Regions from separate parts of the Homo sapiens genome. Here region 1 is linked to region 2. The links come from fine-mapping of genetic effects on plasma protein levels. Region 2 holds a variant in brackets. A gene starts in the other region. All regions are shown on their reverse strands. Region 1 holds the start of KLKB1 (kallikrein B1). Region 2 overlaps KNG1 (kininogen 1).

The links. PIP is the chance, under the fine-mapping model, that this variant and not a neighbour inherited with it causes the effect. The UK Biobank Pharma Proteomics Project read protein levels with antibody pairs (Olink). The fine-mapping took linkage between variants from a reference panel, not from the people measured, so its PIPs are less certain.
Region 1: KLKB1 starts here. The variant in region 2 is fine-mapped to the plasma level of the KLKB1 protein (UK Biobank, PIP above 0.99).

What each region holds. Positions count from the first base shown.
Region 1 is chr4:186,226,006-186,228,927 of GRCh38, reverse strand. KLKB1 (kallikrein B1) reads right to left here and starts at 1,421. Exons shown (of 15, transcript NM_000892.5): 1 at 1,341-1,421; 2 at 675-733. The coding sequence starts at 732. RefSeq lists an enhancer at 2,244-2,914.
Region 2 is chr3:186,740,819-186,743,740 of GRCh38, reverse strand. It overlaps KNG1 (kininogen 1), which reads right to left. Exons shown (of 10, transcript NM_001102416.3): 10 at 1-2,219. The coding sequence ends at 1,410. Among named protein-coding and RNA genes, the nearest start is that of KNG1, 25 kb to the right of the region's middle. The variant A/G (reference allele first, on the strand shown) is at 1,603.

The DNA.
Region 1 (2,922 bases), not on the chromosome of region 2:
TCTTAAGTCACCATAGACCCAGAATCATGCCTTGTGGGGACACAGAGAAAACTCCCTCTGTAATGATTAATGAAATGTCCAGAATCATTTTTATTCTCCAAAAATTAATGAAATTAATAGAGAAATGAGATCTAAATCTGGTGTTGAAAGCTATTCACCTAGAACTATCCAAATGCATGGTTTGCTAAGTTAAATTTAAACCAGTTACTTTCATTTTTGAAATGGTTCCCTAGCGGTCCAGAGTAAAACTATGTATGGTGTTCCTAACAGATACTTGGATTGGACCCAGACACTATAAAATGCCTAGCACTCTTTTGAATTTTCAGATAAAGTTTAATTTTTTACTGTTGATAATAAAAATAGAGGACTAATTTTTTTTTGTTTCAAGTTTTGCTTTGCAGAGTGTCATCTGCGAACAGAAGTTTTTGTTAACACAAGTCCCAAGACATTCCTACTTCTGAGCTCCTTCCTCTGGTCTGCAACATATGTCTACAGCAATATACCTGACAAGTGGTCCTTGTTGTGGAACATTAAATAGACACGTGTCCTGAATCATCAGGGACAATCTCCACCCCCGAAGCTGTATGTTCAATAGCTTTCTCCAGGGGTGGTGCCACTTGCTTGGCTACTCCTGTCTTAGCCTGAATTCCATGTTTTATAGATAATTCACTTACCACAGGAAACTGTAGCAAACAAGGAAATGAAATAAGTTGCTTGCTTGAATAAAATCATTCTAAAAAAGAAAACAATACATAACTCTGCTGGTTTTAGACCACATTTAACATAAATCTTAATTTAAGGTGATTTAGATTTTCTTGTAAATGTCTGAATTGCAAGACAAAGCACACAATTACTGGTATAGAAAACAAGGGTTTTTTTTTGGTACATTTGTGTCTAGGGAGTTGGAAAATTTATAATGCTTCCCAAGATACAAATTGAGACCTCCAGACTACTGTTGTGTTTATTGTTCATTGGCCAACTCTGTGGCTAGTAATGTTGGAAAGGGAATTGGTAGAGAGAGAGTAAACAATTATGAAACCTCTTGATTTGGGCAAAAACAAAATTAATAAATAATGGCAATAATGTCAGTCCAAAAATCCCTAAGTAAAGAAAACCTCTGAAAATATTAAAGCCCATTTAAAAATTTTAAATCAATCAAATATTCTTTCTGATTTAAAATCATCTTACATTTAAATATTTCTACATAAAGGAACATTATCTATACTCTCTACATACTCAGGAAATTAGAATATAAATGATTAATTTTCTCATAAAGTAAAAAATTATACTTAAAAATTATAGTTTATTTGGAAACAATCAGAATAATAAAAATTTGCTACCTGAAAACACAATTGCTTCTTGGAGGTGAGTCTCTTGTCACTTAAAAATGAACGGTCTTCAAGCTGTTCTAATGTGGCACTGCAGGCAATATTTTGCTTGGCTTCAATATTGACTTTGGGTTTCTGCCAACAGTTTCAACTTTTTGTCCTGTCAACATATTCCATGAACATCCTATCCGTGTTCAGCTGTTAAGTATATTAACTATTTCAGGGAGTGATGTCAGCAAGAATAGGAATAGGAGTTTGTCAGAACAGGAGTTTCTAGCGCTCATCCCTTGCAGAAACATCAATTCGAACAAGTATCCATGCACGAAAATAACTTCACTAGAGCTAAGGAATCAGGTGAGAGGTTATGCCACCTGGTTGCAGCACAGAAATAAGAAAAGACACATAGAAGTGTATAGGAAGGACAATTTCACATTACCGGTGTCATCTCACCTTCAAGCCTGGGCAGCACAGTATGGAGAGAGATGCCCTCTTGCATGGAGGAGGGACAGTTAAGATAGAACCTAACTTCACCACAGATCCCAAGCACCAAGCCCACTCCAGTAAACCCCAGCACCAGGATTCAGGCCTGCCACAGGCCAGACCAGCCTCTGTGGCCTCAGCCCCATGCTCACCCCAGACCAGGTCAGCCCCTGGGGCTTCAGGCTCCAAGATGGCCACACAAAACCTAGACTTCAGGCCTGCTCCAGCTCTAGCCTGGCCCCCAAGACTCTATCTAGCCTCCACGTTAGCCCCAGCAACCCCAGGCTCCAAGTTGGCACCCATGGGCCTAGAATCCAGGCCATCCCCTGCAGATCCAGCACCAGGTCAGCCTCCAGAGATCTTGGCTCCATGCTGGGCCATGTGGACCCAGATGCTGGGCTCACCCCAGTGGACCTTGTTCCCAGGACAGCCTGAATAAACTCAGGAACAGGCCTATCCCCATGAACTCAGGTGCCAGGTGATCCCCATGTTAGGCTGGCCCCTGCAGACGCAGGCTTAAGGCTCATTTCAGTGCCAAGTCAGCCCCCAAGGATCCATGCTTCAAGCCAGTCCTTGTGCACAGAATACAGACAACCACAGTGAATGAACCCAGAATCCAGCCCTTCCCACCTTAGAACTCCAGCAGAAATCCTGTGCATAGACCCCAACAGACAGCCCACCAACAATCTCTGGTCAATCTGACTAGTGAATGGCTTTCTCTGCTGAAGCTAGTATGTAAAGACTGAAATAGGTGCCTACTTCAGTGCAAGGCCACACTGATCACAAATAATCGGGGAAACAAGAAACCACCAAAGGAAGGAAATAAAGCAGCAGGAGGTGACCCTAAAGAAATGGAGATCTTTACTGCATGACAAGAGCTAAAAATAATTGCCTTAAGAAAGCTCAATAAGCTACAAAACAATATAGATAGACAGTAAACAAAATCAGGAAAACAATACATGAGCAAAATTAGAAGTTCAACAAAAAGATAGATAGGAACCATAAAAAAGAATGAAACAGAAATTCTGGAGCTAAAGAACAAAATGACTGAATTGAAAAAATTCACAAACAGCTTCAGCAGCAGACTAGATCAAGCAGGAGAAAGAATCAGCAT
Region 2 (2,922 bases):
GGGTCGACCCTTGTACTCGCAGGACCTTAGGTGACTCTGTAAGTATAGTAAAACGCAGTTAATATGATGTTATCATTCAATCATTTTTAAAAAGTGGAGCAACCAGTTGACAAGGTAAGACTTTTTCCTGACATCTGTGGTTGTTTATTTAAAAGAACAGACAATATTTAAAATGAAAGACAAACTCAGAGGTTCAAATGCATCCAATAACTTGAAGCAGCAGTGACATATACATCCAAAGATGATTGTAGCTATTTAAAGCCATATCTTGTTTTTCTAGGCAAAAGTACAACATTGGTTATAAAGCATATACCTTCTTTGCACTATAGGGCAATGAAAGGCAATCCTATTATTCTGCTTCTCAAAAATCAATGGTCTTCAAAGTCATAGCAAAAAGACTATAAAGTGAGACTAGAGAGTAATTTCCTCATAAAATTTCGGAACAAACTTTGCATCACATTCCATAATATTCCCTTGTCAATTATTTAAAAAGTTTTATTAGCAAGCCTGCTTCTATATTGCTCCCTCTGCTTTTCATCCTTATCATTAAGCTCGGAGCTTCTGTAAACTAAGAATTACTCAATCTAGGCTCAGCAAAAATAAACAGAATACTTCTATATGAAAGCCTGTTGCAAAGAGTAGTTAATGAGTAAACAGAAATTTTTGACTTATGAGAAACACTCTCACTCAGAAAGGGCAGTGGGAGTATTTATTTGATATAACTAGCCCATTTTGGGAATAGAAAGTCAATTAATTTATGTCCCCCCTTTCCTCCCTTTGGCCAACCTGTCTTCTTTCTTGTTACTTTGAAATCTGGAAGTTTTTCTTATTATTTCTTTTTTTTTCTTTTTTTCTGAGACAGAATCTTGCTCTGATGCCCAGGCTGGAGCGCAGTGGCACGATCTCGGCTCACTGCAACCTCCGCCTCCCGGGTTCAAGCAATTCTCCAGCCTCAGCCTCCTTATTATTTCTATTCCATTAATAAGTTCAGCATTTAATCTCTTGACTTCCCTTATTTTCACACACATTCAAATACCAAGTGCCACAGTTTATTAAGAATGACAAGAATCTTTGTATGCAAATTCATGACATATGTTGTAAGGTACATATTTGTTATCAGAGAAGCCAATTGCAGCAGGCCATACGGCACATTAGTTTGTCTGTTTACTGTGCTAGTTTAGAAAACTTGGGAAGAAGATTCAGAAAAGAGTTAGAATTGTGGCACACAATTTTATGCAGTCCGTGGAGACTGATGGTGTCTCCACTGGGAGTCTCACCACTTCTCTTTAGACTGTTCCGAAGCTGCATGGTTTTTGGTGCATTATATCAGGATATTTTCATCTGGACAATGGAGAGAGGGATATTGATACTTTAATAAAGTATGAAAGAAATACCCATAGCCACTTAAATTAAGAAAGGCCATCAGTGAGATCGAAATAATAAGATTCTTTCATTTGTGTGGTTGGATTAATTTCACTAACTGACTTCCAGGGGCGTCCAGGACATTTTGGGGAGGTCGTGTCTGGAAAATCTGATATTGGGTTAAATGAAAGGCCATTTGGGTCTATCTGGATATCAGGGATCCAATCGTCATCACTCTGT[A/G]TGGGAGCTGGTGATATAGGAGGCATCATAGTTGCAATGAGATCAGAGTCCTGAAAGTCAGAAAAGGTAACTGTTACACCTGGCTTGGCTAGGGAAGGGATGGGTGTTGGCCCTTCTGTCTTCTCTTGTGTCTGTGCAGAAGGTGTAGTACTGTCTTCAGAAGAGCTTGCCAAATGCTCTGTTTTCCAACCATTGTGCTTTCCATTCTTTTTGCCTTTATTTTTATGTTTTCCGTGGCCATGACCATGCTTATGCTTATGTCCATGGTCAAGGACATGGCCCCCTTGGTGTTCAAGATCATCATCAAGTTTGAACTTATGTCCATGACCAAGACCATGCTGTTGTTCGTGTCCATGGCCAAGGCCATGTCCTCTTTGGTGCCCATGCCCTTGGTCACGTTCATGTTTATGGCCATGGCCAAGATTATGTTTTCTTTGTTTTTCATGGCCCCAGTCATGTCTACGAGTATGCCCTTGTTCTTTTCCTGAATCCCGCTCTTCATCTTGTGCAGGTGCCATGGAAGTGTGGGGTGGACTTACAGTTGTTTCTTCTTTTATTTCCCCTATTCGTGATGATCGGAAAGGTGAAAAACCTGGAGGCCTTTTCATCAGTGAGATCTAAACAGAAAATATTAAGATGAATGTATTACTGCAAAAATCATGCTATTGATGATAGAAAAAAACACTGAGATCTGGCAATGTTATCTTAGTTTACAATGGGGGAGGTGTTTGCCAGATTTTAAATGCTATATTAACATTCCAGAAAGGATGAATAATTTTTTTTGTCTTTTGATTGATCTTAAAATTTGTGGACATTAATTATTGTTGTTAATAATACCATAAAATAGCCAGGCATGGTGGCTCACACCTGTAATCTCAGCACTTTGGGAGACCAAGGCGAGCAGATCACTTGAGGTCAGGAGTTTGAGACCAGCCTGGCCAACATGCTGAAACCCCATCTCTACTAAAAATACAAAAATTAGCTGGGCATGGTGGCACATGCCTGTAATCCCAGCTACTCAGGAGGCTGAGGCAGGAGAATTGCTTGAACCCAGGACGTGGAGGTTGCAGTGAGCTGAGATGGCGCCACTGCACTCCAGCCTAGGCGACAGTGACTCTGTCAAAAAAAACAAAAAACAAACAACAACAACAACAAAAAAAAAACAAAAAAACCCAGCCAAACAACAACAAAAAAAACTGTAAAATAAGCTGGAGTGTTTTTGCTTCATCTGGATGGTTGAACTAGCTAATCTCTAGGGTAGCTTCTGAGCCTATGTTTTTACTGAGCACAGTATTTAATTATTGATACTACTGTTATTAC